Homo sapiens: one gene and its partner. The protein of the gene in region 1 purifies or fractionates together with the protein of each later gene. This does not show direct contact. Each region holds a gene or a part of one and is shown on either strand. Other genes may lie near its edges. The genes, in order: WDR1 and POTEE.

Region 1 (16,283 bases):
AGCATCTCCAACTACTCTTGGGCAAGGCCATCTCTCCAGTAGTCTTACGCATGAGGCTAAACCTCTTCTCTTACCTCAAAGATGGCTTCAGTATCCCTCCCGTTACCTCCAACAGGGCAAGAAATGTACCAAAAGCAACACACAGGAGGCCACAGTGGGGCTGAGAGGACCCAGGTACACATGCTGTTTCCTGCCTGGTTTCTCCCCACCTCTGCCGTGTGTCTCAACGCTCCTCCTGGAGAACTCTTATTCATCCTTCAAGACCCAACTCAAATGTGGCACTTCTCCAGCAGCTGTCCCCGCTCTGTGGCACAGCTGGCTCCTCCCTCACATTCCCAGAGCACCCAGGGCATTGTTCTTTTGAAGCACTTAACCTGGTGCCTTCGAAGGTTCTTTACCAGAGTTTTCAACCTTGGTACCCCTGGCATTTGGGGCTGGACAGTTCTTTGTGGAAGGACGGCCATGTACCTTGTCGGATGTTTGGCCACAACCCTGACTTCAGATACCAGTGGCACAAAAATGTCTGCAAACGTTGCCAGATATCCCTCAGGGGAATGAGGTGGGGGAAATTACCCCTCCCTGAAAATCACTGATTTTAATCCTGGTCCTCTGTGGCTTAGGGTATGGCTTGCCAAGACAGGGGCTTAGTGAACATGTGTGGGAAACGTGAGAGCCAGAGATGGCTGCACCACGCAACGGAACCTGCGCTGACGCCGCCTTCATCTTTGAGCAGCTTCCTAATTGGCTTCCCTGCCTCAGATCTCAGATACAGAACTTCTCCTTACCGTAGGCTGGATCTGATTACTTGTCTGTGAGACCTCTGAATGGCTCCAGTGGCCTTCAGAGCAGGGCTGCGCTATGGTAGGGCTGTGTGAGCCACCTGCCACCACTGCACACCAGCACTTCTCAGCCTGGGTCCTGTCCACTCCCCTCACGCTCAGTGCCACAGTAACAGCCCATAAGCACCCGGCCCTTCGGTCCTCCCAGATGTGGTCCCATCTGCAGAAGCCCAGCGTCCTGACTGGCACCTGCAGCCACTCAGATTCTCCTGAGATGAAGGCCCCCCACCACCCTCTGCTTCCCCTGCCATCAGGTGGTCAGACTGAAGGCCTAGAGGTTCCTGGCTCTGCACCTGGCAGGCGCTGCTGCCAGCTCGTTTGCACCCAGGTGATAATCCAACGCACCACTTCCTTCTGCCACCTAGAGTTTATTTCACTCCCACCCAGGACAGTGAGCTCCATGTGGGCAGGGCCTCCATCCTGCACCCCCACAGGCCAATGGCCATCTGGATACACGCAGGTAGTCAGCAGGCGTCCAATTCCGGAGAAGCAGCTAGGTCAGTCCTCAAGCCCTCTGTCATGCCACCATTACCCCCAACCCGCAGGAAACACAGGTGAGTCCTCTGCATGTGAATGGTGGCAGCTCACACCAAGGGAAACCAAGAGTGAGCCCAATACCCTCCCCAACCCCCCACTTGGTCTGCCCCCTGTTCAAGGAGAAAAGTCCACTGATACTGCGCCTGGGTTCCCAGCAGTGTCAAATTGCTATAAACCTTGCACTCCCGGAAACTCAATTTTATAGACATCATTTTTCCAAATGTGTATTTTAGTTCTGGAATCTAGGAACTGGATACTTTAAAAACCAGGCCCCAAACTTGCCTGCATAGCAAATCTGCTGGCTGCCTGGCAGCACACAAGAGGGCCTCTGTTGTGAGGCAAAAGTTGCTTTTTTTTTTTCTTTTTCTAAACAGGGACTACTGGCACTACTGGCATTTTAGGCTGGGTAATTTTTATTGTAGGATGGTCCCGTGCCCTGTTTAGAATCACAAACAGGTTCGTTCACAGCCATTGGGGGTGACCCTTCCCAGTCTTTGCACAGAGGTCATAAGAGGCAGAGGTGATGCAGGCAGGGTAAGGAAACTTAGAAGGAACCACCCCAGACCTAAGGAGGTACCAGCACCTGCAGGAAGCCTTCCTTAGACCCCCGAAGCACAGACTATCCATCCCTTCTCCGTGGGGAACTAATGTCTCTCAAACACAGTGTACATATGGTTCACTGGAATCCCCTTCTTGGAGCTCTCTCCTTCTGGAATATTAGTTTCTACATGGCCACCATTATAGTCTTTCACTCTACAGAGGAGAGTTGCCTCTCCAGGTGAGGCAACGAGATGTGTTGAAATAAACAGGTAAGAAACACCCTTTTTCTACAAGTTTAAGAAGTGCCATTATGCTGGGTTCACAAAACAGCTTTTAAGTCAACAAAATAAATGACAGAGGGGGCTCCAAGTGCAAAGCTGGCAACGGTGCTCGCCTCTTAGGTATGAAAGGCGATTCCACAAAATTTAGGTCCGGCAATCTACACTGAGCTGAGCTTTCCTTGTTCTCATGCAGTAAGACCTCAGTGGCTGCCTATTATCTTCACGACACAGCCTGGTTTTCCAGGCTTTTTAATCAATGAGTAACTCACTGAGCACCTACTGTGTGCCAGACACTCTCTTAGGCGAGGACACGGCAGTGACTGAAAGAGAGGGGAAAGCCCTGCTGGCCTGGAGCTGATGCCCAGTTAGGGGGACAGGCAGATACCTATGTACACTTGTAGGCAGCCGTAGCCTGCTGCTTGTTAGCTTGCTTCCTACTTATTGTCAGCAATGAGAAAGACAGAAGGCCGGGGATGGAAAATTCTATTCCGGGGACACCCCTCTACTAAGGTGACTACATCTAAGTATAAACCAAAGGGAAAGGCCTAGTGTGGTGGCTCACGCCTGTATCCCAGGACTTTGGGAGGCCAAGGCGAGCGAGCAGATCACTTGAGGTTGGGAGTTCAAGATCAGCCTGGCCAACACGGCGAAACCCCGTTACCTACTAAAAAATACAAAAATTAGCCAGGTGAATTGGCACGTACCTGTAGTCCCCACTACTCGGGAGGCTGAGGCAGGAGATTTGCCTGAACCCGGCAGGTGGAGGTTGCAGTGACCCAAGATCACGCCACCGCACTCCAGCTTGGGCGACAGTAAGCCTCCACCTCAAATTAAAAAAGAAAAACCAAAGAGAAGACAGGGAGCAAGACTTGCAGCTATCTGAGAAAATGTCCAGGCAAAGGCAATAACTAGCAGGTACCAAGACAGATGTGTGGCATGTTCAAGAAGCAGCAAGGAGGCAAGAACGCTGGAGCCGAGGCCACGGTAAGGACTCTGGCTTTCACCGAGGTGGGAAGCCACTAGAGGCCTGTCTTGTGTTTCAGCCACTCCAGCGAGTGTTGTGAACAGACCCCCAGGGCAACAAGGGTGAAAGCAAGGAGACCTGTTTGGTTTTCGGGAGTCTGGGGGCAATAAGTCAGGTGGGGGAAGATAGCTTAGTCGTGGGTGGAGGCAGAGGAAGCCAGGGAAATCTGTTAGATTCTGAAGATACTTTGAATGTGGAGTCAGAAGGATTTACTAAAATTAAAATGTGGCGCAGTAGCGAAGCAGAGAGTGAAACAGGAGTCCAAGGTTTGGGGCCTGAACAGCTGGAGGAACGGTGTTCCCTTTTAGGGGAAGAGCACGTGGGAAACACAAATTTGGCTTGGAGTATGTATGTTGAGTCTGAGATGTCAATGAGACATGTTAGATCTTCCATGATCTGGTCCTCCATTTCTTCCCTCTTCCCTCCCTGAGCCTGCATTCCAAACAGACCATCATCCTTCCTGAACGGTCATGCCAATTCATGTCACTTTTTTTTCCAAGAGTACTTTGCCCTAAAAAAAATCGTACCCACCTTTACTTGAGTACCCAGTCCACCCATCCAACTAACAAGAGACTCAGTGCCTGATCTACATCCAGCCCAGGGAGGGCTATATTAGTAGCATCTCGTGCTGACCTGGCATTGCAGAAACTTAAAAATAATTGAGAAGGGAAACAGGGTAACCCCTGAGAAGAAAATGGCAAACCACGGGGAAGGGGTAAGAATACAGAGCTCAGAAACAGGCAGAATGGGTTTCACAAGCTGGGAAATGCTTTCTGCAAAGGGGTGCCTGTCCCTGAATGACCACTCCATTAGAAGCAGCTCCAGTTACTGGCCTGCCTCACCTTGCTAAGTCTGACTCCTCTTTAGAGTAACGGACCCATGTGGGGTGGAAAGAGATGCTACAGTTTAAGAAGCTATCACAGGGCCAGATGCACAGCAGGTACTTTATGTGAGGCCCCCTCCCTGGAAGTCAATGTGGACTGCAACGACAGGGAAGGCCTGGTTAGGGGCAAAACGAAATATCCTACTGCTCTGTATCCGAGGACGTGTTAGTGGATTTTATTTGCCAAACTACTAAATATCTCTTTAGGGTTGTCTCAATTTTTATTTTCTCAAAAGCCTCAGGACCTGCCTTCGGAGACTTCCAGATCATTACCATTAGATCCCTGGTGATTTTCTCCAGTTCTAAGCAAGGCCCTTCGGCTTTCTAGGAATCTGTGTGACTAGCAAGTTGTTAGCACCTTCAAAGCACATTCACACCCGCCCACCCCCTCATTTGAGGGGCCCAGCAATCCAGGGCAGGTAGAGCTCTGTCTTCCAGCAGAGGAACAGCAGCGACTGCCTGGGTTAACGAGACAGATGCGGGCAGAGCCAGCAGCTCTTCGGACCAAGAGGCTTCTCCTTTCACAGAGAAGGAAACTGAGACCCAGAGACCCCTTCATTCCCTCAGCCAGTTGCTGGCCTCCTGGAGGGCAAGTGTGTCCGATCAACAGTCCCAACCTACCAAGGGAAATCAGGCTGACTTTAAGTTGACAACCCTTGTATGCCTATGGCATCAATCAAAACATACATCTTTGTGCCAGCCGCCCCCACTAAGCACAGCACAGGAGAAATCACCCAATGGCCGGGCCGGCACCTCCAACTCCCACCCCACCAATTCCATCACTCAGGCTGAGGAAGGGAAAAGCAAAATTTAAGCGTGTAACCCAGGAAGGGAGGGAGACTGACAGACTGGGTCACCCCAACAATTACAGAGGAATAACATGAATTTGCAAGGATTTCCCAAGGAGCTGGCTCTAGAAGCCTTTTCAGCCTGGGTACCGGAGGCTTGCAGAGAATGATTCATGGGAAAACACTGCTTCCTGTTTTTGCTTTGGGGCTTAGATCCATGGTGGCAGATCTGGCTGGCCCAGAGGCCCGGGTGTTTTTCCGGGCTCTGCCATACTGGAAGACCAGGGTATTAACAGCGAGTTAGCTGAGTGCCATTCCATTCAGCAAGGGCTCAAAGTGCACCAGGCACCGCTGGGCTTGAGGGACGCCAGCAGCTCATTCATTCCATCTGCCCAGCCAGCAGGCGAAGCGAGAGTGGTCATCATCTCATCATCTGTTTTACAGACGAGAAAACTGGGGCTCAGAGATGCCCAAATCGCCAATCTTCTCAAGGTCACGCAGCGGCCGACCGGGTCAGTCTGATCCCTCAAATCCGGAGCCCTTGCTTTTAAGGAATGAACTAATCTAATCTCCCATCCACGTACTAACCAGGCCTGACCGTGCTTAGCTTCCAAGATCAGAGGCGATCCGGCGCTTTCAGGGTGCTATGACCGTAGACAGAAACGAACTAAGACTCAGTTTCCTCATCAAGAAGGAGCAGACAAGGACCTGGGTGAATCTGAGGCCGGCTTCCGGGGCTCCGAGGTGTGGCTCCCGGTAGAGGGGGCGTGGCGCCCTCACCCTCCCCGGGCCAATGGGCAGGAGGTGAGAAGTGGAGAGGAAGGCGAATTATCCCATCCCAAGGTGGCTCCGGAGCAGAACCGCGCCCGGGGTAGGGGGTACTCACGTCGATGTTCCTTAGGATGACGCACTTTCCATTGGTGTACAGAAAATTGTTGCCCTTAGGGTCGCCGCCGATGATCTTGGAGACGCCCCTCTCCACCTGCGGGAGGCTGGCGAACACCTTCTCTGCGGAGACACAAATGCGGCGGGGCATGTCAGGGCAGGGCGGGGACGGCGGGGACAGAAGGGAGAAGGAGCCCCGGACCGGTCTCGGCCGGTCACCTGTTGACTGCGCCGGGAGGGCGGCCTCCACTTTCCACGAGCGCCAGGAACCGCGCGACTTCCTGGTCCGCGCCCCGGGCCAGGCCCTTGGGGGCAGCGGGGCTCCTCCGGCTCGGCCCACGGCGCCAACTTGGGGGCGCACCCCCCGTCGGGGGTCCCGCCCTGCACCACCGAGGGCGGCCCCGCCACGCCTCCGGCCGGCGCCCGCACCCCTCCCCCGCGCCGAGGACTCCCCCGCCACCCGCACGGCGCCTAGGGGCCGGGGACCGGGGCCGGGGCAGCGCGGCGGCCGCTCGGGGGCCCCGCGCCGCGGCACTTACTGATCTCGTACGGCATCCTCGCCCACTTGTTACCGCGCCGCGCTCGCCGAGAGCCTCCGGGGCCGGCCCGCGCTGCGAATTACACCTCGCCGAGGCCGAGCCCGGGGACTGGAGCCGGAAGGCGGCACCGGGCGTGCCGGGAGTGGAGTGGGCGGTCCGAGGCCGGGGCTCAGAGGCCAGCTCGCGCCTGCCCTGCGCGCTGTGGTTGCGGACGCCCCGAACCCGGAAGCGCGGTCCCGCGCGCGGCTCGCCCCCAGCTTTGACCATATATAGTCAAGCGCTCGGCTCGGCGGCTGCGGTCCCGGCGAGCCTGCGCGGACCTGGCGCTCCCCTCCCCCGCCGGCCCCGGCCCCGCCTCCGCCTTGCTCGCCCCGCCCCGGAAGTGACGTATAGCACGCCCCGCGGGCCCTTGAAAAGGCGGCGCAGACAAGCAGCCGCGTCAGAATGCTTCTGGGAGTCGGGGGGTGGGTGCCTTTCTGTTGCTAGCTTGTAGGAGAAGCTGGGCTGTAGGAAGTTTATTTGCGGGGGGGTCTTAAAGACGCTGAAAGTACTGGCGGGCTTTGGTGGGGGTCTGGAAAAACCTCTCTGTACCTGTGACCGCGTTGCGTGGCGGGCGCTCCCCGGCCTCTCCTTTTTGACCGGTCCCGGGCGTTGCCCAGCCGCCAGTCCTCCTGCTCGGGTTTTGTAAGCAGGAGAGGGATGCTTTTTACGTCTTCTTAAAGTACGGTTAAGTGCCCTTGCTTGAAGTAGTTGCTGGCAACAAGAACGTAGGGGTTACTCTTTGTTGGGCCTGAACTCGTGCTTTTTCTCTCAAAAGTTGAGCTTTTGAAAGGCAAAAAAGGCGTGGGGGATGGGGGAGCTGTCGGTCTTAAGGAAGTTAAAGGTTATTTCCTAAACAAAACAAGTCTCACTCCTAAAACCAGGGTAGTGGCTCAGTTGTGGCGGGAGAGCAGGGGCTGTAAAGTGTCCAAGTTTCTAGTCTCATCTTTCAGTAGGATGGGTACAAGCTTTCCCCTTGGGGCTCTGGGGGCTGGGAGGGTTGTAAAAGTGGGAGAAAGCAAAGTATTTGGCGGGGTGCGGGCGGGTAGCTGAATGTTGTTGTAAGTGGAAGAGGAATGCTGTTGGCGTCTTTCTCTAAGCACGGTTAAGTGCTTTTTCTTGAAGTAGTTACTGGCAACAAGAACGTAAGGGTTACTCTTTGTTAGGCCTGAACTCGTGCTTTTTCTCAAAAGTTTAGCTTTTGAAAGGCAAAAGTGGGGGTGGGGGCGCTGCTGCTTTTAAGGAAGTTAAAGGTTATTTCCTAAGAAAGCAAAACAAGCCCCACTTGTAAAACCCGGGTAGTGGCTCAGCTGGAGAGCAGGCGCTGTGAAGTGTACAAGTTTCTAGTCTCATCTTTCAGTAGAATGGGTACAAGCTTTCCCTCGGGGCTCTGGGGGTGGGAGGGTTGTAAAAGTGGGAGAAAGCAAAGTACGTGGGTGGGGGGTAGCTAAATGTTGTTGTAAGCGGGAGATGGATGCTTTTGGCGTCTTTAAGCACGGTTAACTGCCCTTGAAGTAGTTGCTGGCAACAACGTAGGGGTTACTCTGCTGGGCCTGAACTTGTGCTGTTTCTCTCTCTCAAAAGTTAAGGTTTTTAAAAGGCAAAGGCGTGGGGAGAGGGGTAGGGGAGCTGCTACTTCTAAGGACGTTAAGGGTTACTTCAGAGCAAAACAAGCCCCACTTCTAAAACCAGGGCAGTGGCTCAATTGTGGAAGGGAGAGCAGGGAATGTGAAGTGTCCAAGCTTCTAGTCTCGTCTTTCAGTAGCGTGGGTACAAGTTTTCCATTGGGGCTCTGGGGGCTAGGAGGGTGGTAAAAGTGGGAGAAACCAAAGTACTTGCGGGTAGCTAAAAACTCTGAAACCCACGCTGTGAGCGGTTCCTGCTTCTCTGAAAGGTCTGTTCTGCTTAAGGTTGTATCAAGGTTAGTCTCTTGCTACCTACTTCTGTAGAGCAGTCTCTCGTGGCTCACCTGGGTTAGTGGCCATGTTGCCTGTCTCCTATTCTTCCTAACCTTGTGTGTTCTCCAGGTAGCTGAGTGATCCATCCGAAGTAAAATATTCCTCAGCTTGTCTGTAGGGGCTCCAAGTTTCATGAAGTAAAAGCTAGTCTTGAAAACGGCCCATTAGGGTCCTGGATGACAGTCTCCGGGTCACTTAGACTCCGTTGTCCGCCTCCCCTCATCTGTATCATCTTTGCCTTGGGTACTGGCTTCGGAGGGTGTTTTCCTGAAACTCTTACCTGAGATCTACTTGGCTGACTCCTGTGTCCTTCAGAAGTACTTAATTGCTCAAATGTTAGTTGATGAGTGTCACCGGTCTCATTTTAAATTGCAACTTCAACCCCTTGCAAACACTGCTTCTCATTCCCGCGTTCCCTAACTTTAACTCTCAGGAATAACCCTGACACCTGGAAGATGCTCCTAGGGATGACCCCACTCCCCACCCACAACTGTTAATCAGGAAATAACGGATATGAAAGTAGCTCTGCGAACTGAGGAGCCGTGGAGAATGTACAAAACAGATTCCTAAAGTAAGATACGCAGGCCCGGCTTGTAGGCCGCTGCATCTGCTTTGATAACTTAGAACTCATCAAATCACCTTGAGACCCTTAAAACAAATGGTATAATTGCATTCACAGGTAGTGCATTCGTGTAACAAGATTAAGAAAACGAAGGACCAACTTCAAGCTCTTGCAAGCTGGTAACCTTTACACTCGTGCATAAAGCCTTGCTGGAGTTGACACTGAAAACTAAACAGTCGAACTTGAGTAAAACATATCCAAACTCCCAGCTGCTGGGCTCTACAGCTTATTTTTAGCTTGAAAGTTACATGTTGGAGCTGCAGAGGCTTTATGGTGGTGGTGGGGGAGCTGTTTGTTCGTAGTCACTTGAGTCTATATGAACGTGGCAGGAAATCTGAAGGATGTGAAAGGAAAATGGGAAACACCAGGGTGTTCCAGGATTTTCCCTGTGGGGCGCGAGCTCAGTTTGGTGTTGTCAGCTGTGGGAGCTTTAACACTTGAACCGTCTTTACTGTGGGTCTAGCCTATTCGTTGGGCTCCCCTAGTCACCACTCATGCCTTCGTGTATCCTGTTGTGTTGGGCCCCCACTGAATTAAATAGGGATGGCACCATGTTCGAGAAGCCGAGGCGACCCAGAGCCAATGAACACATATGGTGTATGGAGGGGACTTGAATACAGAGTGGTCCAGAGCAGCCAGCTGGGACAGAACTGCGCTTCAAAAAGCAGTTGATACAGATCAGGTACACCTACACTCCCAAGGTGTGGCTAAGCCGCTATCAGGTGTCAAGCGTGTAAGGGTCACTGCCAGGATATACTTGAGTTGCTTTCAGCTGTCATAACTCTCTAATAGGATGGGGATCCTGAGGTCTGCATACACCAGTGGTTCACATCTCTGAGGACCCAGCTACTTCTCTGGCCCTTTCTGGAACCTGTCTACTTGGAGCTCCGTAGGAAGGGTCTGAAAGGCCCCTTACTCGCACTGAACGACAGCCAGAATAAGACTAATTTGCCTTCCCCTTCCCTGCTGATTTCTCTGGGGTGCTGCTTCCGATAGTGACCAGCGTCCTTGCATCTCCAGCTGCACTGACCAGAAATCTCACCCCCCACTTAGGTTAAAGCCTTCACTAAATCTAGTTGCTTAGAACCTCTGTATCAAATCTTTCTGTAGCCACAGCCCTGCTTTGGTGCTCTTTAACCTGGGTTATTCTAATTTCTTCCTGACCAGTTAATCTGTATCTGCTTGGAGCCCCTTACTGCAGCCAGAGAAACTTTAAAAGCTTGTTGAGCCTTGGGTAGCCTAGGTTTCTATCTTGAGACCGAACATCCTCCCTGGGCTTCTGAGACACTGGCATGCTGAGGCTCTGCCTGGCTCAAGGAGCAAGTCTCCTGGGTCATTCTGTTCTGGCACCTGTCTCTGGGTCTTCACTGATGCCTCAGTTTAAGGCCAATCCACCCTCAAGCTATACTCCCATTTTGTTGCACACTGGTTTGCTTATGACTATGGGGTTCATCAGCGTCTCGACTCTCCCCTTTTTAGGGATTGAGAGCAGGGACCTTGTTGCTCGAGCACTTGTTGCAGGGGCCCACCCAGACAATTGGAAACAGAACGCAGGTGTGCCAGATCTATGAACACCTGCGTGCTTTTCAGACAGTGGCAATTCTTCCTTTTGCTGTGTGAGCGAGCAACATAAGTATCACCTGAACTTAATTCTAAAGTGGCAACAATGTGTTCTTGAAACTTCTAAGCAGCAGCAGCTTAGGATACTTAACTCTTCGACTACCTTTGGGGTAAACTAGCTCCAATTGGGTAACTTGGGCAAACCGCTAACTGGCGTCAGGTGCTAAATGAGCTGTTTAACAGCTTTCCACTCAGGGGAAAACAAGTTTGGAGTGGGTTCTGAACGCTTTATGTAACGCAAACAGTGGGGGCGTGTGGATTCCTGGAATGCACCTTGTCCTCTGAGCACGCTCTGAGTCCTGGCTTCTAGAGCCACAAACTGCAAATACGTCAGATGTGTGAGGCCTATACTGGAAGCTTTGGGGAGGAACAAAGCCACAGGAGAGCTGAATTTCTCTCCAAAGCCTGTCAAGCTGCTTCCTCACTTTCAACCCTCATGGGTTCTGTCCAGGCTCAGGAAAAGGGGGCTTTCTCTTTCCTGTTGCTTCAACTGTATCAACCCCCTAGGAAGAGCCCTATGCAAGGGTAGCGCTGCTCCCGTCTAGCTCACCCTGTGGACTGAACCCCCGCCCTTTCCACAAAGGACTGTTGGGTATAGTGGGGGAAGCCTTTCTGCTCCAGGAATTTCAGTCCCTTTTGCAGGCCTGTCCCTGTCTCATAAATAAGCTCAAGTCATATTCAAAGTTTCATCTCCGGAGTGTCCCTGGAGTAAATCACCTTTATCTACTACCTCAAGCCAGTCTCGCTGCCTCCACCTCCCCATCTGCACAGGGAGTTGGAGTGATTGCCAGTGAGTCCTCTAGAGGGTCTGACACATGGTGGGAAGTGGCTGCCCACAGCCTGAGTTAATGTGTAACGCTTTTAGCTTCGCTGTCAGGCTTTCAGATCTTTAATTCTCAAATCTCACTGGTTGGATCGAGTCCATAGTCCGTTACTAGCTGTGACTAGGGAGGGTGGTGAAATGCATGGCAAAAGCAGCTACTGGTATCCACCTTTTGACCTGGAAAAATCCGGGTTGTGGGGCCTGGGCTGTCCCTCCAAAGTGAACTGGAAACCGGGCTACCTTGCCAGAAGTGCTTGGATGCCTTTGTCAGAGGACTGGTAACAAAGCCTTTAACCTGCTAGCATAAACCTTATGCAAAAGGGGTTAGCCCGGTTAATTCTGCCAAGGCAAGAAATGAGTTATCTGCAACCCTCCAGTGAACTCGTTTACTGAATCCCTTCTTGGGGGGCCCTATGTGTTGTAAATACCTTTCTTTCCAGTTGAGCAGCCCATTGGAAAGTGGGTTTTGCAAATAAGCAAATAACTAACACCTGCATGCTGCAGCAGCTTTAAATCCCTGCAAGTCATGGAAGCTTGGGCATAACTTTTCAGTTTGAGGTTACTGAAGGATGTACTTCTAAACAGCTAATCAACGGCATAACTTTAGTAACACAGTACAAGGAATATATCCTACTTGGGTTGTCTACCCTTGTTTCTTAACCATAGCTTCAGGCAACGAAAGCTATCTGATCATCAAGATCCCGGTGAAGGGGGTGGTAACTGGGTGGAGTTGAGCCTCCACACTGGAGGACCTAAGGCCGTGTCTTGCACTGCTTCGAAGCTCCTGTAGCTGCAAAAGAACTCTGGGGACAGTTAAACAATTCCCCTGTCCCATTCTTCTTAAACTCCCATAAGTGATAGAACACAGTCGCTTCTGTCTACCTGCTGCCTGAGACTTGGTGTGTTGCTGTGAGGCCTGGTGACAGCCCCGGCCTGTCCTTTCCCGGGACCCTTCCTGGAACGTTTACTTACCCTCATACTTGCAAGCACTTCGTGTGAGCTAGATGCTGGGTTTGTGGGCCCTTGCCCTTCATCTTACATCAGGGAAGGGAACTTGGGTTGGAACTTTGCCGAGTTGAAAAGCAAGTGATGCAACCAGGAGTTAAACAGGTTGGGTCTACAGAGTCTAAACTGTCCTTTACACGTGAAAGGGCTGAAATGGATAGATCAGATATGGAAGTTTTAATTGTGCCCCTAAATAACCAACTTTTCCAGTGAAGGTAGAATCTTAGCATGCTCTCACCCAAGTTCAAGGATAGCGTCAGTCGCTCTCCAGTTGAAAGCTTTGTCTTTGGGTAACTACTTACCGTCCTAGGGTTTCTGCCTTTTCCTTCTGACTCAGTCCACAGTGCCTGGGTCTTTGCTGGCCTCCAGTTGTGTGGTCAGAGCTAACGTGTTTGGCTGTTGAGCACCGGTGTCTGGCTTGTTTTGTGCCCACAGTGCAGGGGCTTGGCTACGTGGTCACTGGGCATCCTGTGGTGCTGTGGGGGTCTGGTCTGAGGGCTGTGCCAGTGCCTGTTGCTGATATGGAGATTCCGGTCATGAGGCTGTTCGCTGCAGCGAGTCTCCTTGTACAGACCCTGTGGTGTGGCCTTCTTGCCCATTGGCCTGAGGGCTTGGGTCCTTCCTCTGCTCCATGAGCATAGAAACTCTAGATCTCAACACCCTGTGTTTGAGTGTTCAAGACTGTTAAACAGAACTGGATCCCAGCCCTCTTTTCCAGGAGTGCTGAGGATCTTTGAGCCCTGACACAGCCACAAATCCATCACAGCTCCTGCCAGCACCTCCCAATGCTGCCCCTGGTTCCTTGGCGGTGGCCTCCGGCCATTTCCAAACACTTCTGCTATTAGCTGCCTTTATAGTCGGCTTCCCTCAACACGTGGACCAAAGGGTCAGCTTTTCTGCCAAACAGGATGGACATAGATTGTTAGTGGAGGAGGGCTCTTGTATTTGTTGCCATGGAGACAGTGACCAGCTGGATGCCCTGCCTCTCCGTTCGCATGCCTCCCTGTGGGGGAGGGGGGGAATCGCACTGCGGATGGGCCTAGGGAACTTGGACATGTGTCATTCAGCCCTTTGCTCCTTTGACTCAGGCTCTGCCTGCCTGTGGTAAACAGGTGCTCTGATCTGCTCCCTCCAAGTGGGTGGTGTTTCTGGGTAGACATTGCCCATCCCAGCAGTGGGGATCTGGTAGTTGAGATCTGCATGTGGCTGGGAAGCTGTACTGCTCTGCTAGGGCTGGCATAACAAACTGCTATGAACTTGGTGGTTTCAACGGAAATTCTTTTCTGGAAGCCAGGAAATCTGAGATCAAGAGGTGGGGTGTGGTTGGCTCCTTGCCAGGCTGTGAAGACTGTTTCAGGCCTCTAGCTTCTGATGGTCTGCTGGCATCTCTGCTCCTTGGCCTGTGGGACCACCACCCCATCCCTGTTTTCATCCTTAATGTCTTCTCCCTGTGCCTGTTTCCGCTTCCCTGTTTAAAGGACACTGGTCCTATGGGAGTAGGGCCCACTTTGAGTTTTACTTCATCTTAATTGCAGCAGCAGGCCACCCTGTCTCTAAACAAGGTCACACACTGAGAAAATACTTCACTGTAGGGGCTGAGTTTCATCTATATTGAAGGTAGGGCTTGCCCTGTCATCCTCCCACCCGTAAAGCCCCAACCACCAGCCTCTCAGCGCCTTGGGGACAAGGCAGAGGCGGTTGAGTTGCGGTGACCCACCTTGTTGACAGTGGCAGTGGTCACACTGTAAAGTGTTGCCACCCATTCTGGGGCACCAGCCCTTGGGGAAACTGGACTTAAGGCACAACCTGGATCAAGAGGCTAGGTGCCTGCACTATATCTGCCTGGCAAAGGAATCACTGAGGAAGTGACTGAAAAGTGCTTCCCTATCTCTGACCCTGGTTTTGGCTTTCATCCTAAAATGCTCTAATGAAGCGGCCTAAAACACATGGCTGCCTTAGAAAACAACCACTGGAGCATTTGAGGAGTTGGCATCTCCCCCGCCTTTGGGGACCGTGGGACCAGTTTCTTAGCTCGGCTGCTGTGGCCATAAAAGTACTCCTGCTTCTAGGCATGACCCGGAGGATGGTGGTGGCCACAAAGCAACCAGGAGTGGGTGCTGTCTCAATGTCCCTGGCTTGGGCCCTAGGTCTAGACAAGGACCTCGGTCCACTTTGTTCCGGTCTGGGAGGGTTCCAGTCATTCCCGATGGCATTGCTGGGATTGGACAGGAAGTCCCTACCATACACAGGCAACTCAGGTTCATGTAGAAGGAGGCTCCTCAATAAGGGAAAACATCAAAGGGGGAAGTTTTAGATGAATGAGCTCAGACTCCGATGAAGCTGATAGACCGAGTAGCTCGACACATTCTGGAATATCTGGCAACTGGCATGGACTCCGTAAAAGGATTTTAATTTTTGTCTGCTTTTCGAGGTACATTTAGGCACAGCTGTTAAATTGGTAGTTATGTCCTATTGGGAAAGATGCTGCAGTTGTGGCCACAGTGGAGGCTTCTACACACGTGGGACACGGGGGACCCTGAGAGACTTGGCCCTGCTGCAGATTAAAGATGACCGAGGCAGTATAGTGTCGGCAGGTCAGCCACATACCTAGTGCTTGCCTGGCATACTGGATGTTAAATGATTTTCAATCTCATCTTAGGTAGTACGGGAAAGTGGTCTCTAATTTGTTCCCCATATGATTTGTAGGAATGGTCTTAAAATGCTGGGTGGTGAAATCAACGTTGTGTTCCTTGTAATATTTGAAACCTGGAAACTGCAAGTGCTCAGTCATAAGAGCTGGTGTCAGCCACTGGGTGTCTATTTGGTTCACAAAGCTTACTTCAGCCCTCCCAAATGTTCTCCCACTCCACATCAATACCCAGCTTCAAAAGGAGCCTCCAAGCAAAGTGTTTTTGGGTATCAACCTTGACCGTGGAGGAATTGTGAAGCCAACGTAGCAAGATACCTTGATCATGTGGACTATCACAACCTGTGGGATTGTGAACATCTAGAGTCATGTATGCACCTCACATGTCTACCGAACACCAAAGGGTCAGACACGAATGCAGTATTCTGGAGCTTGGTGCCTAGTCACTTATTTCCCCTCTGTAATACAAATTGTTGGTGCGTTATAAGGATAAAACGCAGGCTCTTAAGGCCTGGTCATATTAGAAGTGCTCGAATGTCATGTACATGTTAGGTGGCTGGAGGTACTATGGAAAATAGGAACATGTTATCTCTTCTGTGTGAAGGTCAGGGAGGCTCTTGTAGGACTCTAAAGTTGATATGTGAAGGATGTGAAGAGCATAGAGTAGTATGTGATATGCTTGGCAAAGGAATGGAGTCTCCCTGAATACCCGTGTGGAATGGAAGTAGGGCTGGGAAATTAGAGCCAGGGCGAGTGGCTGGGGCTGCTTCATGGAGGTTCCCCAATGACCTCATGATCAGATGCCATCAGGATGTGTCAAGCGTGATGTGGATCAGATTGACTTGTTGGGGTCACTACTCCCTGTGGAGGGTGGGGTTAAATGGACCAGCCTGGGACACTGGAGTTGGGCCATTGTGAGTGGTGGCCTACGGAGGATTGGAGGGTAGCAAGCCTGACATGTGCAGGCAGGGGACACACGCAGCATTGTCCTGGATGTCAGAGGAAAGGAGCCCAGGGATGATGAAGCTATGGTTTGGACAATACAGTGGGTGGTGGGTGATGCCAGTCACTTAAAAGTGAAGGCAAGCAGCAAGGGATCTGACTGCCTCCTTTGCATGCACTATTAGAATTGATCCTTCTATATCAGCAATCTCGTACTCCCAGAAGCCCTACCCCACTGTACGGTGAAACACCTGGGTGTGTAGCTGGTGGCTTCAGGTAATACTTAAGTTGTAACTTTCCCAAACCCTTTG
Region 2 (16,262 bases), on another chromosome or scaffold:
AACAATTTCAAACACACTAAAAGGTTTTAATCTAACAATTTTTAAACTTTCTTTGTCAATGACTTTGAACTGTGGTCTCTCGGAACAAATCCAACACCTTTAGTAGAAAAATTATGTTAATTCCTACATTATCATTGGGTCTAGCCAAGAGTTGACCAAAGGTGATATTAACAGATATGCTTATTTATTACCTTGTTCTCAAAGTTCTAGCGTAAGTCTTGAAAAATCTAGTAAAAATTTGTAAAGACTATAATTGCACAAACTCCCTCTCTCATGAGTCACACAGTTAATCCAGAATACTATTTCTAAGTTATTGTAAAGCCAACAAGTAAATATGATGTAGTGTATAAAAATAATCCTAATTGCATTGTATATTCTGTAAGTGACATATGCAATTGATACTATTTACTAAATATCTCATAATTATATTTATTTACATAGAAAAAAGGAATCAAAAACATATCTATTATCTAACGTTTAAATGATTAAAAATACTTGAGATAGCATTGCTACATAAATGCTATGTAAATGCTGAAGAAAGTAAAAATGTCATTCCCTACATTTGCTAAATATATTGTGACACATTATAAGCATTTTTAAAATATATCACTAATGGTTGGGTCAAGTCAGCAAAAATGATTCTAAGTATTTAATTGTGGAAAAATTTAGTACAGGGGATAGTATTCATGTGATGGAAGGATTTTAAATGGAACCCAGAGATTAGCAGCAGCAGTAAGTTTTAATTGCATACCAGGTGCAGAGTCTAGGATACAAGACAGAACTGCAGATAAAATCTGACTCCTTCCAGCATAGCTAGGAGACATGGCTAACTCCACCTGTCCGGAGACCTTACCTAGAAATCTAACGGCTCCAAACCAGGTAAACAAAACTATTTTCCAAAGTCAAAGCATCAATTTATGACATTAAAGCACTTCTAAAACTTAACCTCTGACTTAAATTAGACCAAATGGATAAATTTTGAAGATATTTTTATTTTACCACTGACTTTAACACCATCTTTATTTCCCAAAGATTACTGAAGTCACATGAAATAAAAGGCATTAGAGCTTCTATTTTTCTTACAAAATATTTAAGAGCTTTCATTTTCTTTTAAGCCGAGCCATTATATATACATCACATACACAACACTTCTAGACAAGAAAAGATCTAGCAGTTGTTCAGTTTTTCTTTCCCACTTTATGAACCATAACACAACTTCCACAGACTATCTACGACATGATTAAATTTATCTGACCTGTCCTGTATTTCCCTCTTTTGTAATTAGTCATTCTACTTTAGGACAACAATTTGCCATATAAGATCCTCTCTCATATAACATTTCTTTCCTTCATAACATTTCTTATAATAAATACATCTTCATATCCACAATTTTCTTTAGATCTCTCTCCCCTACTAATTTCTGATGCCCATCCAAACCAAAAAGGTCAGACAACGCAAGGCAAAACAGAGGAGAGCCTTAGATTTTTGAGAGGGACCTGTCTGCTTAAAGTTCTTGGGGTTCCATGAGGAAAACAGAGGTTTCTCCTAAAATGGGGTTTGTGGAACCTTCTGTTTTTCCTTAAGGAGTCCCAGGTTGTCAGAAATTACCTTAGATCCTCTCATGTGGGCATCAAGAGTGGCAACAAGAGAGACTGGGGTAATAATTCAGACAACTGAGCAGAAAAAGAAAAACTTACTACTGTCCCCACTGTAATGATGGATAAACTGAGGCACCATGCAGTTCAAAAATTCATGTTCACATAATTAGGATCCACAGCTCACTCTCTTAAATAATTTTGCCAACTCTATGCCCAGTCACTGATGCACCTGTATGGTAGCTCATGGCCCCCTTGGAACTTAGAACCTGGGTTTCATTCCTGCTCTACGGCTATATAATTCAACAATTTTCCTTTGAATTTGTTGGACTCTAACCCTGTATATCTCAAATTTTATTAGTATTACTGAATCTTAAAGGGAGCTGTGACGTCTTTAGTCTTTAGAAATATTAAACCTATAAACAAGGACTATATGAGGTTAAACAGTATTCAAATTTCTATATGCTTTAAAACATGGACACAATGTATTGAGAAACACACCTACAAAACTGCACCCCATCAACTCTGGACAAAAATTTAGATATTATCTCTTCAATATAACCTATCTAGTGGTATTTATACATATTCTTCCATGTATCAATGGTATATTACATGCTCATAACCTTAAAAATAACAAGTGTTCAAATTATAGGCCTTACACATTTCTACGGGCTTGAAAAATGATACAATATAGATTGTCTTTAAAGCAGTCAAGAAAATGCATAAACTTCTAGAGGAATCAGTAAAATAAAGATAAAAAGTTCACACCTAAAGTAGTAATACTAGGAATAAAAGAGGGCTCGACACTGCAGGTTCTTAGATACAAAAGTTAATAAAGCCTTGTTTTTGGTTGTGAATCTTTGCCTTAAAATACACACAGCCGACCGAGGTGGGTGGATCACCTGAGGTCAGGTGTTCTAGGCCAGCCTGGCCAACATGGTGAAACCCCATCTCTACTAAAAATACAAAAATTAGCCGGGCGTGGTGGCAGGCACCTATAATCCCAGCTACTCAGGGGGCCAAGGCAGGAGAACTGCTTTCACCCAGGAGGCAGGGGTTGCAGTGAGCCAAGATCGGGCCATCGTACTACAGCCTGGGGGACAAGAGCGAGACTTCATCTCAAAAAAAAAAAAATTACACACAATTCTCCCGACTTCCTTTTTCTCTTGCAAAGAGGTGGTGATGAACCAGGTTTGCTCAGGCAGATGGCAATACTCTTGAAAATGGTGGCAGAGAGCCAGGCGTGGTGGCTCACACCTCCAATCCCAGCACTTTGGGAAGCTGAGACAGGTGGATCACTTGAAGTCGGGAGTTCAAGACCAGCCTGACCAACATAGAGAAAACCCATCTCTATTAAAAACACAAAGTTAGCTGGGCATGGTGGCACATGCCTGCAATCCCAGTTACTCGGGAGGCTGAGGCAGGAGACTTGCTTGAACCCAGGAAGCGGAGGTTGCAGTGAGCCGAGATCGCCCCATTGCACTCCAGCCTGGGCAACAAGAGCAAAACTCCATCTCAAAAAAAAAAAGAAAGAAAACAAAGGAAATGGTGGCAGAGAAAATGAAGGCAATACAGTTCACTTAATAATCTCATAAATTAGAACTTACCCCGTGACTCCTGCATAGCTCCAAATATGTGAGAGAGATGAAATGGCTGTTTGCCACCAATATTTTTATGTGATGCTTCATTTTTTGATTCTCTGAATAACTACTTATAACGCATTAGCCCATTTATGCCAGAGGCTGCAATTTTTTGAATTTTTGCACGAGTGAAAAATCAAACCTTCTAATGACCTTGAGCAGTAGGATGTAATTAACTCCCTCATGCTTACCATTCCAATAATGGAACACTAGGCATAAGTGGTTTAACACAATCATGAAAGCATAGCTATTCAAGTAACTAATTATACAACTGATTTTTTTCCTCATCCCTAAAACATAGTAAAGGACCAGTTATTTTAAAAATACAACACAGTGACAATTTTGGCTTGTTGTTTGTTAAGGCCATTGCTTGGCATAAAGAAAACAAAAAGAGGAGGAGAAACAAGAATAGAAACATGAAATAGAAGCAGCAGCAAAAGAAAATGAAGAGGAACAAGAAGATGAGAAGAATACACAGACTAGAAAAAGCAAAAAGAACAGGTGCAGGAATTAGAAGGCCTATTATGACACCTTTTATCCCCTCCCCAATTCACAAAATTTGAAAAAGTCCAAGACCATCACAACAAAAAAGAAGGAAAAAATGACCGGGAGTGGTGGCTCACGCCTATAATCCTAGCACTTTGGGAGGCCAAGGTGGGCGGATCATGAGGTCAGGTGATCTAGACCATCCTGGCCAACACTGTGAAACCCCATCTCTACTAAAAATACAAAAATAAAATTGGCTGGGCGTGGTGGCAGGCGCCTGTAGTCCCAGCTACTAGGGAGGCTGAGGCAGGAGGATGGGGTGAACCCAGGAAGCAGAGCTTGCAGTGAGCCGAGATCGCACCACTGCACTCCAGCCTGGGCAAAAGAGCGAGACTCTGTCTCAAAAAAAAAAAAAAAAAAAAAAAAAAAAGCCACACACACACACACACACAGTCACCCCCTAAATTTTGTTAAGAATGAGACAATGCTGCCACTCATGCCTGGCTCAGAAGGAGGCCACCCTCCAGAGATTGCAAGAGAAGGGGGAGGACTCCTTTCCCTAAGTGCACCTCCACCACTGCCACCGAGGCCCATGGTACAGCACCAGCAGGTTCCTCCCCACCCCAGGTCGGACTGGGCCCTGCAGTGCTCCTACTCCCCCTTCCCAGTCCCCAGACTTTCTGCCACTACCACCACTAGCACCAATGCCAATACAGTTGCTGTCGCCGTCAATGCAGCAGCCCACCCTACAAGGTTCCTACCACCTTGCCCCCGCGGGCACCCTCCTACCACTCCTGTCGAGCTGCAGTCTCCGTGGCTGCCATCAGTCACACGAGGCGAGCTGCAGAGTCACGCCACATGCAGGCTCCAGCGTACCACAGGTGATTCCTTCTCCTCCTCCTCCAGCCTGGCTTGGAGCAGCTAGACCGGCAAAGCCAGAAAAGCCTAGAATGGGATGCAGGGAGTGGTAACGTTAGAGCCTCACCTTGTCATGCTGGCCACTGGGTGGCAGGGACCAGCTTCAGCTAAGGCACTCACACCCACCCACCGAAGTCCAGCCTCTCTTTCTGGCAAAAGGTGGCCAGGAACTGGGGCGGGTGTGAGTGCCTATGCTGAAACCACCCCCATCCAGGTGCAACTGGCCAGAAATTGCTGGGCCCACCAGGGCTGCACTCCTTGGGGAGCAGGAGTAGGAGAAACTCAGACCCAGCCAGCCCTCCCCACTCAACTGCTGGTTCCCGTTCCTGACACCTCCACCCACAGTGCCCTGTTCCCACAGTCCCCCGCGATGCCCACTAATCCCCACCCGGTAGTCCCAGGTGGTCTCCCCAACACAGAGCATGGGGTGTGGGCGGGAGGTGCAGGCCGGAGAACCGCAGTGGGTGTGGGGGCCCTGCCCTGCTCAAGATTGCACGAGCAGGAACTCTGGAGTCTGGAAAAGAGAAGAGTTACCCGAAGGAGCAAGGAGACCATGGCTGTTGCTGTCCCCACCACCTCTGCAGCCGACCAACACCACTGGCAGTATAGCCCCCATAGCAACCCTAACCTGACCCCTGCCGCCGGCAGTGTAGCCCCCGGACAGCACACCCAACACACCCTGTGCCAGTTGCAGGCAGTGTAACCCCAATACCCCCCCCCAACCACCCCTTCCACAGGCAGTGTAGCACCCGATAGTGCCCACAACCTGACCCAGCCACAGGTGTTGCTGCACAAGACAGTGCCCCAAAATCGCCGCCCCCACCCCACCACAGGTAGCGCAGCTCCTGATAGCGCACCCTGAGTAAGGGCAGTGCAGCACCCGACAACACTCCTAAACCACCCCCCGCTGCCAGCATTGTAGCTCCAAATAACCACCCAAACCACTCCCTGCCCCGGGCAGTGCAGCAGAAAATAGTGCCCCTAACCCCTCCCCCGCCACCGGCAGTACACGTTAGTGCACACAACCTGCCTCCCCCCCACCACCCCCGCCACCACGGGCAGTGTAGCCCCGGACAGCCAGCCAAAACCGCCCCCCTCCACCGCCAGCAATGCAACCTCGGAGAGTGCCCCCAACCAGCCCCCTGACACAGGCAGTGCAGCCTCGGGCAGTGAGCCCCAATAGGACACCCAACCCCTGCCCCCACAGGCGGGCAGTACATCCCCGGATAACTCACCTACACCAGGACATTTCTACCACTCTGGCCGAGCTGCAGTGTCCCACGTCACCACCAAACACAGCAAGGCGAGCCCCAGGGGCTCAGGCTCCAGCCTCCAGCATGCGTCGGTGCTGCTCCCTTCTACTCGTCTTCCTGCCTGGCAGGAGAAGCTCCCGCTACTAGTTGCCCTCCTACCGCTCTGTGGACACCACCAACTGCAGTGAGCCAGTGTCCGAGGCTCCAGCCAGAAACAGGTAGCAGCCATGCCGGTTACCAAACGCCCACACTTAAGAGCCTGAAATGACCTGACGCCACCTCCGCATGCTTTACGTACTGAGGTTACGCACATGTGGTTCCCAGACTACATGTTCTGATTGGATGAGAGAAAAACCTCTAGGCCTACTCTGATTGGACTTTATTTTCATGCTGTGATTGGTTGTCTTAAGACTGGCTCTCATCCAATCAGAACATGATAATAAAGTCCAATCCAAGTAACCCTGGAGGGTTTTTCTCATCCAATCAGAACATGCAGTCAGGAATCCTCCTGTATATAACCGCGGTATACGCCTGCTGCTGAAGGGAAGTCAGGCTCTTCCACGTTCCCGTATTTTCCTGTGGAGCTGCTCAGTGCCCGGCTTAGAGGACCAGGAATGGGTAATCACCAGCCGTACGCTGGAGGCTGGAGCCGCTACACCGTGGCTCGCCTCGCTGCGACTGGTGGTAACCGCGACCGAGACGGCAGTGCGGCGGAAGCGGTAAGAGGAGGAAAAGAGTTTTGGGATAGATGGAGGGGGTAAAGAGGGTGGTTAGTGCCAAAGGGAAGAGAGGATAGTGAGCAGGAGAGCGCGTTGCAAAAAGGCGGTGGGGAAAAGATAGTGGGAAAAAAAGTTTTTGGGTAGATGGAGGGAGAAAAACGGGGTGGGGAGCGGCAGGGAGGGAAGGTTTTGCAGAAAGATGGTGGGTAAAATGTTTATGGGTAGATGGAGGAGGAAAAGAGGGTGGCAAGGGAGGAGGAAAGAGAGGGTGGTGGGGGGGAGAAACAGCGTTGAGCAGTAGAGAGAGAAGGTTTTGTGAAAAGACAGTGGGGAGAAAAGGTTTTGGGTAGATAGAGGGGGAAAAGAGGGTAACAGGTGGGGGAAGGGAAAAGGGTAGCCAGCGGGAGGAAGACAAGGTTTTGCAAAAAGATAGTGGGCAGGAAAGAAAGACGGTGGAGAAAGAAAAGACAGTGGGTAAAAAGTGTTTGGGTAGATGGTGGGGGGAAAGAGGGTAACGAGGAGGAGGAAAGAGGGTGACGAGAGGGAGCAGGGAAAGAGAGTTGGGGAAAAAATGGGAAAATAGTTTGGGGTAGATGGAAGGCAAAAAAGAGAGTGGCAAGCAGGATAGGGCAAAGAAGAGGACGAGTGGGAAGGGGGGAAGACTGTGAAAAGACAGTAGGGAATATTCTGGGGGGTGGATGGAGGGGGAAAAGGGGAGGTGAGCAGGAGTGGGGAGAAGGCTTTGCGAAAAGACTATGGGGAAATGTTTTTGGGTAGAGAAGGGAAAGAGGGTGGCAAGGAGGAGCGGGGGAAAAGACGATGAGGAAAACAGTTTTCGGGTAGATGAAGGGCGAAAAAGTGGTGAGCAGCAGGAGTGAGGAGAAGGGTTTGGGAAAAGACGGGAGAAAATGTTTTTGCTTAGATGAAGGAGCAAAAGAGGGTGATGAGAGTGGGATGGGGGAAAAGAAGGTGGCCAGGGAGAAAGGGAAAAGACGGTGGGAAAAAACAGTGGGGAAAGTGGGTAAGTGGATGGGGAAAAGGGTGGTGAGTGAGAGAGCAGAGAAGGCTTTGCGAAATGACGGTAGGGAAAAATGGTGGGGAAAAAGTTTTGGGGTAGATGGAGGAAGAAAACGGGTGGCGAGGGGGAGGAGGCCAAAGGCGGTCGGGAAAAGAAGGTGGGAAAATAATGGTGGGAGACAAAGATTTGGGGTAGATTTTTTTTTAATCAAATTATTTGTATTTTTGCTTTTGAGTAGTTATTTATATATTTTGTGTATTAGCCCCTTGGCTGATGCATAGTTTGCAAATACTTTCTTCCATTCTCTGGGTTGTTTCTTCGTTCTACTGATTTCTTCCTGTGCTTTGCAGAAGCTTTTAAGTTTTATGTAATTACATCTTTGCTTTTGTTGCTTGTGCTTTTGACAAGTTTAATGTAATTACATCTTTGCTTTTGTTGCTTGTGCTTTTGATGTCTATTTGAAAATTCCTTGTCCTAACCAGTTTCATGAAGCATTTATCCTATGTTTTCTTCTCTAGTAGTTTTATAGTTTCAGGTCCTACATTTAAATCTTTATTTTGAGCAGATTTTTGTATATGGTAAGATAACGGCCTAGATGTATTCCTGCACATGTGGGTGTTGAGTTATCCTAGCAGTTTATTGAAGAGATTGTCCTTCCCGAATGTGTGTTCTTGGTGCCTTTGTTAAAAATGAGTACGCCATAAATGTGTGAATTTATTTCTGATTTCTCTATTCTGTTTCACTTGTCTATGTCTGTCATTCCTTCGTTTCTGTTTCTCCCCCGCCCCTTTTTTTGATAGTATTATGCTGTTTTGGTATTACCATGCTTACTACAGATTTGTAGTATGTTTTGAAGTCAGGTGTGATGCCTCCAGCTTTTCTTTTTATTCCAGATTCTTTTGTCTATCTGAGGTATTTTGCGTTTCCATGTGAATTTTAGGATTTTTTTTTCCTATTTCTATGAAGAATGTCTTTTGTAATTTAACATGGATTGCATTGACTCTCTAGATCACATTGGGTGATATAGACATTTTAACAATATTCTTCTAGTGCATGGACATGGGATATCTTTCCATTTACTTGTGTCTGCTTTAATAGCTTTCATCTGTGTTTTAGAGTTTCCATTGTGGGATCTTTTGTCTTTTTGGTTAAGTTTATCCCTAGATATAATTTTTTTGGTAATGAAATAGCTTTCTTGATTTCCTTCTTAGGTATTTCACTATTGGTGCATGGGTGTGCTGATATTGTATCTTGCAACTTGACTAAATTATTTCCTGTAGGTGATTTTGTGGAATCTTTAGGGTTCTCTCTTTCTCTATGTATATATATATGATCATGTCACCTGCAAACAGAGACAGTTTGACTTCCTTTTTTCCAATTTGGATGCCTTTTATTGCATTCTCTTGTCTAATTGCGCTACCTAGGACTTCCAGTACTATGATGAATAAAAGTGGTGTAAAAGTAGCCACACTCGTTCCAGGCCTTAGAGGAAGAGTTTTAACCTTTCCCCATTGATTATGATGTTAGCTGTGGGTTTATCATATATGGCCTTTATTGCGCTATGTTCCTTCTGTACTCATGTTGTTCAGTTTTTGCCATGAAGGAATGTTGATTTTTATTTTTTTCAGCATCTACTGAAATGATTATATGGTTTTTGTTCCTGATTCGCTGAATGTGATGTCGTACATTTATTTATTTGTGTTTTATTGAATCATCCTCATATTCCTGGGATGAATCCCACTTGATCATGGCAGATCATCTTTTTATTGTGTTGTCAAGTGCAATTTTCAAGTATTTTGCTGAGGATTTTTTTGCATCTGTGTTTATCAGGGATATTTAAAATGCCTGTGGCTTTCTTTTTGTGTTGTTTCCTGGTCTGGTTTTTGTACCAGGATCATGCTGTCCTCATAGAACAAGTTTCGAAGACTTCCTTTCTCTTCACTTTTTGGGGAATATTTTGAGTAAAATTGGTATTAGCTCTTTTAAAAATGTTTGGTAGAATTCAGCAGTAAAACCATGATTCTTGTGTTTTTGTTTGACGGAAGACTTTTTATTACTGCTTTAATTATATTACTCATTATTGATCTGTTCCGGTTTTTTGTTTATCATTCTATCTTGGGAATTTGTTATGTGTCCAGAAATTTATCACTTCTCCTAGATTTTCCAACTTGTTTTTATATAGGTGTTTTTAGTAATCTCTTACAATCCTTCATATTTCTGTGTTATCACTTGCAATGTCTCATTTTTCATCTATGATTTTTTCTTTTTCTTTTCCTTAGTCTAGTTAAAGCTTGTCAGTTTTGATTTTTTTCTAAAAAATCCAGCTCTTTGTTCCATTGACTTTTTGTATTTTTTGTTTCTATTTTTAAAATTTCTTCTCTAATCTTTATGATATTTTTGTACTAATTTTAGCATTTTATTTTTCTCATTTTTCTCACTACTTCAGGTGTACTGTCAGGTTGGCTATTTGAGATCTTTCTACTTCTCTGATGTAGGTGTTTATAGCTATGCCCTTTTCCTCTTACAACTGCTTTTGCTGCATCCCACAGGATTTGTTATGTTGTGTTTCTATTATTTTTTCAATAAATTTTTAATTTTCTTTTTTTTCATTTATTTATTGGTTGTTCATGAGCATGTATTTTAATTTCCATATATTTGTACAGTTTTTCCTCCTGTTATTGATTTCTAGTACTATTCCACTGTGGTCAGAAAAGATACTTGATATGATTTCAGGTTTTGTTTTTTTTTTTGTTTTTTTTTTGAGACAGAGCCTTGCTCTGTCGCCCAGGCTGGAGTGCAGTGGCGCGATCTTGGCTCACTGCAAGCTCCACCTCCCGGGTTCACGGCATTCTACTGCCTCAGCCTCCCCAGCAGCTAGGACTACAGGCGCACACCGCCACGCCCAGCTAATTTTTGTATTTTTAGTAGAGACAGGGTTTCACTGTGTTAGCCAGGATGATCTCTGTCTCCTGACCTTGTGATCCGCCCCCCACCCCAGCCTCTCAAAGTGCTGGGATTACAGGCATGAGCCACCGCGCCTGGCCATGATTTCAGTTTTTAAAAATGTGTTGTGACTTGTTTTTTGGCCTAACGCATAGTCTGTTGTGGAGAATAATCCGTATGCTATTCAGTGGAATGTGCATTGCGCAGTTGTGGAATGGAAAGCTGTGTAAATGTTAGGTCTATTCGGTATAGAGTACAGTTTAACTGATGATGTTTTGTTGTCTGGATGATCTGTCCGTTGAAGATAGTGGGGTGTTGATTATAGCGGAGCATTGAGGCATTCTGTTACTGTATTGCAGTCTACGCTTTAAGATCTGTTAATATTTGCTACTGTATTTAGTTGCTTGAGTGCTGGTTGCATATGCACTTGTAATTGTTCTGCTGTTTACTTCTTTCTCATTATATAATTATCTTCATATTTTTCTTTTTTTGACTGAAAGTCTATATAATCTAAGTAGAGCTACTCCTGCTTTTTTTGTTTCCACTGGTATGGGATATCATTTATCATGTCTTCACTTTCAGTCTATGTATGTTTATAGGTGAACTGAGTTTCTTGTAGGCAGTATATAATTGGGTCTTGTCTTTTAATCCATTCAGCCACTCTGTCTTAATTGGAGAATTTTATTCATTTATATTCAAGGTTATTATTAACGGGTAAAAACATACTACTGCCATTTTTTACTTGTTTTCTGGTGGTTTTGCTATTCCCTCTTTTTTCTTTTGTTCTTTCTCCCTTCCTTCCTCTTTCTCTTCTCTCTGATCTCTTTCTTTCTTTTCTTTCCTCCTTCCCTTCCTTCCTGTCTATTTGTAGTGAGGTAATTTTTTCTGGTAGTGTGTTTTAATTGCTTGCTTTTCATTTTTAGGGTGTCTATTATTGATTTTTGTTTTCCAGTTACCATGAGGCTAAACAACATAATTATAACAAGTTATTTTAAACTGAAGAAAACTTAACTTTGATTTGTCCCAGCTACTCCGGAGGCTCAGGTGGGAGGATTGCTTGACCCTGGGAGGCCAAGGTTACAGTGAGTTGAGATCACACCACTGCGAATATAAATAAATAAATAAACAAACAATAGCTTATAATGAATTCTGATTGTAAATTTTGAGATGATGATAAGGTATAAAGAAGAAAGTGCAAATCATTCATAATCTCATTACTCAACTACTCCTAATGTTTTGGTACATATGCTTCCTAATTCATAACTCTCTCTCTCTCTGTCTCTCTCTGTCTCTCTCTCTCTCACACACACTCACACACACACACACACACACGTACACATAAAATAGATATATTTTACACACAGATACAATTTTATTGTAACATTTTAAGAAAAACAGCTTTGTAATTTTTTATTTAAAAATATTGGCTGGGCGTGGTGGCTCATGCCTGTAATCCTAGCACGATGGGAGGCCGAGGCGGGCGGATCACGAGGTCAGGAGATCGAGACCATCCTGGCTAACACAGTGAAACCCCGTCTCTACTAAAAATACAAAAAAAAAAAAATTAGCCGGGCGTGGTGGCGGGTGCCTGTAGTCCCAGCTACTTGGGAGGCTGAGGTAGGAGGATGGCGTGAACCCAGGAGGTGGAGCTTGCAGTGAGCCGAGATGGCGCCACTGCACTCCAGCCTGGGTGACAGAATGAGACTCCATCTCAAAAAAAAAAAAAAAAACTCAAAACTGACATGGCAGTGGTGAGTGTGGGATCCTGGGCATCCCTGGGAGAATTGGGGCTCCCCCAAGAGCTCCTGGGACCACTGCTGGGAGGGGCCTTCAAGGTTAGGGTGGCCGGGTAGGGGCTGGGCCTGACCTGAGACCCTGCCCACCAGGCCTCTTCCAGGCCAGGTTTGCTGTGCTGGGTGGGAACGTGGGAGAAGTCACTCTCTATCTGCGGCCCCCATCAGTGCCTCTGCCACCCGGCCCAGAGGGGGCAGGGACTCTGGGGCGGACAAGGCTGTGGGGGTGGTGATTATACCCAGGATCGGCCAACATTGTCTGCACAAGGGTGGAGGCTGAGAGAGAGGCCTCGGGAATCTGGCTGTGAGGACGGGCCTGGGGTGGGAAAGCCCCCTACATGGGGAACCCTCAGGTTCCGGGCTGCTGACCGTGCCCATCCTGCTCCAGCCCACTCCCCCACTGCCCCCGGTGCCACCGACCAAACAGCAGTACCTATGCCAGCTGCTCCTGGATGCCATCCTGGCCAACATCCGCTCACCCTCTTCAACCATTCCCTGTACCGCACAATCATTCCAACCATGACTGCCATCCACAGCCCACCCATCACGTACATCCAGCTGGGCTGGGCTTCGCGGAGGGTGGCTGCCTGGCCCTGGGCCATGTGTGCCCAGTGTGGTCACCATGGTGCCTCCCCAAGGCCCCAGTGGTATGCACCCTGAAGCACAGGCTTGAGGACGATGAGCAGCAGAGCATCCCCAGCGTGCTCCAGGGCCTGGTGGCCAGGCTGGAGCCCAAGTGCATGATAAACCTGGACCCTTCTCACTGCAGCAACAATGGCACTGTCTGCCTGATCTGCAAGCTGGGCGAGTGTCCAGGAGGGCCAGGCTGGTGCAGGAAAGCAACCCCCGACCGCAGCCCCAGGTCTCTGCTGTCCAAGCCAGAGGGTACAGTGCCCAGACCCCATCCTGTGTTTACGTGCCAGCAGGCTGTCTGCTCTGTCTTCACATACACTGGGCCCAGGACAGACTGGCCATGCCTCTGCCCCCACCCCCGGAGCCCACTCACCCTCACCTCCCCAACACAGATGCGGCTCTGCTTGCCTGGGGCCTTAGGGAGGTGGCAGGCAGGACCTCTGGGCACCCATCTATGCAGGTCACTCTGGCTTCAGGTTTGGAAATCCAAGAGTCAGAGAGACATCCAGGCTTTGCCGCAAGCCTCACCAGAACCTCCCGGGGTGTGAAGAGTCCTGTTTGGGAGCAGGGCTGTGAGGCGGGGCAGGCCAGGGCTTGTCTGGGTCACGGGTACAGCCTTGTGTGTTGCAAACGACAAGGACCTCCCAAGTGTGCCACCATGTGCCCACCCACTACCCTACCCAGAGTCCACTGTGGATGGACCGGCAGTGGCTATACAGTGGGCAGACCCAGAGGAGCTGTCTGGGGGCCCAGGGCAGGCAGTGGTCATTCTGGAACACCAGGCTTCCAGTGCTGCAGGGACAGCCTCTGTGCACTCCAGCCCCTCCCAGCTCAGGCCCGTCCCTCCCCTCTTCTGACTCCCCCTACGCGGGCAGCAGTGGGTTTTCCAGTGGTCACCTGAGAGATAGGGGTCTCTGCTCTTCTTCTGTGTCCCTTTGCCCCTTCATCTTGTGTCAGGTCAGTTGTCCAGGGTGGCTGTGTTCAGTGGCTGAGGGGTGAGAAAGCCTACGGCTCAAGGACAGACCCCACTTCTCCCAGAGGCCACTAGGGAGCTCAGCGGGGCTGACAGGTCCTACCAGTAGCTTGGGCACACAAGACCCCATCTGGGTGATGTGGCTCCAAAGAGAGTCATGTTGACAGGGGTCAGTGTCCCTGAGCCCAGAGCTGGCACACAGCAGAGACAGGGTTGGGTCCCCAAGGTTGTCAGAGGCAAAGCCTTGGGCTCCAAATCCCGTTCAGATTCAGTTCTTCACTGACGAGGCTCTGGGAGGAGAGGCCGATGGCCAGGCAGGCAGCGTGCAGGGCTCCTCCTGGTGCTTCAGCCAGTCCTGGGTCTGCCACTTCCCAGAGCACTGTCGGGTGTGCAGGGCGTGGGTGCAGCGCCGGCTGCCCCAGGCTCATGCCCACTGTTCTGTTGCAGGCACCAACCCCTTCCTCAGGTCAGTGCACCGCTGTGTGACCTCCAAGCGGCCACAGCTCCCAGACAAGCACTCGGTTACCACCTTGCTCAACACCTGTGCCCGGAGCATCCACAAGGCCTGCCTCTCAGCTGCATAGCCAGGACTGCAGGGATGGCCCGCAGCCTCATCGGGGCCAAGGACGCATGCCTCCTGTCAGACACTTCTAGGTGTTGGTGTCCATGGAGAGCCTGGAGTTAGGTTAGCTTTCCTCCTTTTCTCTCCTGCCTTGGGGATCTGCCAAATGAAATCCCGCACTTGTACAGACTGATACGGGCAAAGTGGAGCGGGCTGCCTGCAGGGCGTTGGCCGTCTTCTTGGAGAAGGCACTCCATGTGACTTCCTCCACGAAGCCAGACATGGTCCCCAGCCACGATCCTTGGGCTGCTCTCACCACGGCCTGTCCAGGGTCTGGGTGAGTCTCAGCAGCATGAGGGTGTGCTCAGGGTGTTGTTAGAGCATCGGTGTGTGCTCGACACGCTCCTGCTGCTTTCTATAGGAGAACACAGAGGACATAGGAAACCCTTCAAACACACATGGGATTCTCTGCTCACAGTTTTGGGTTCAGGCTGCGCTGCTTTGGGCAAGTGGGGCACCCCCTAGGGAAGCCCCTGAGTGCAGGGCACAGGCTGCCTCTTTTAATACTTGTTTTTTTCTCATACTCAGGATCTATACTGTAGACTTTATAAACACTGTACCCTTAAGCTACACCAAATTTATAAAAAATATTTTTTCTTCGATAATTAACTTTTCTGTAGCTTTTAAAATTTATGAACTTTTAAATTTTTTAACTTTTTGACTCTTGTAATAACAGCTTAAAACACATTGTACAGCTAGCTGTATAAAAATATTTCTTTATAGCCTGTAAGTTTTTTTTTATTTCAGAAATGTTCTATTTTAATTTTCAGTTTGAAAACTCTGTTAAAAACTGACACAAACATATACATTAGCCTAGGCCTACATGGGGTCAAGATCATCAGTGTTACTGTCTTCCACCTCCACATCTGCTCCCATTGGAAGGTTTTTAGGGGAAATAACGTGTGGATCCAGCTGTCATCTCTTGTGGTAACAATGCCTTTTTCTGGAGTACCTCCTGAAGGACCTTCTGAGGCTGTGTTTCATAGTTAACTTTTTATCTTTAAGTAGGAGTATACTCTAAAATAACAATAAAATGTATACCATAGTAGACTGGGCCTGGTGGCTGACGCCTGTAGTCTCAGCACTTTGGGAGGCCAAGGCGAGTGGATCACCTGAGGTCAGGAGTTGAGACCAGCCTGGCCAACATGGCAAAAGCCCTTCTCTACTAAAAATACAAAAAAATAAGTCAGGCGTAGTGGCTTGCAGCTGTAGTCCCAGCTACTCGGGAGGCTGAGGCAGGAGAATTGCTTGAACCCAGGAGGCGGAGGTTGCAGTGAGCCGAGATCACGCCACTGCACTCCAGCCTGGGCAACAGAGTGAGACTCCATCTTAGAAAAAAAGTGTATTATAGTAAATACATAAACCAGTAACAGTTATTTATTCTCATTATCAAGTACTGTATATTATACATAATTGAATGTGCTATACTTGTTTTATATGACTAGAAGTGAAAGTTTGTTTACACCAGCATCGCTGCAAACAAAAAGTAATGCATTGTGCTTGGACATTATGATGGCTATGTCACTAGGCGATAGGAGTTTTTCAGCTGTGTTACATATTGTCTATCATTGACTGAAATGTTGTTATGTGGCATAAGACTCTATTTACTTTTTTGGAAATTATTCTTAAATAAGGAAAAATTCTGCCATTTACTACTTGTTCCCTGATC

The links.
Region 2: the proteins of WDR1 (region 1) and POTEE purify together in Homo sapiens (affinity purification with mass spectrometry; 2 studies listed by BioGRID and IntAct, with this or other methods). This does not show direct contact.

What each region holds. Positions count from the first base shown.
Region 1 is NC_000004.12:10,110,335-10,126,617, forward strand, and holds the start of WDR1 (WD repeat-containing protein 1), read right to left. Parts: upstream 6,466-16,283; 5' UTR 6,333-6,465; coding exon 6,317-6,332; intron 5,901-6,316; coding exon 5,779-5,900; intron 1-5,778.
Region 2 is NC_000002.12:131,199,432-131,215,693, reverse strand, and holds the start of POTEE (POTE ankyrin domain family member E), read right to left. Parts: upstream 6,159-16,262; 5' UTR 5,875-6,158; intron 4,667-5,874; 5' UTR 4,511-4,666; intron 1-4,510.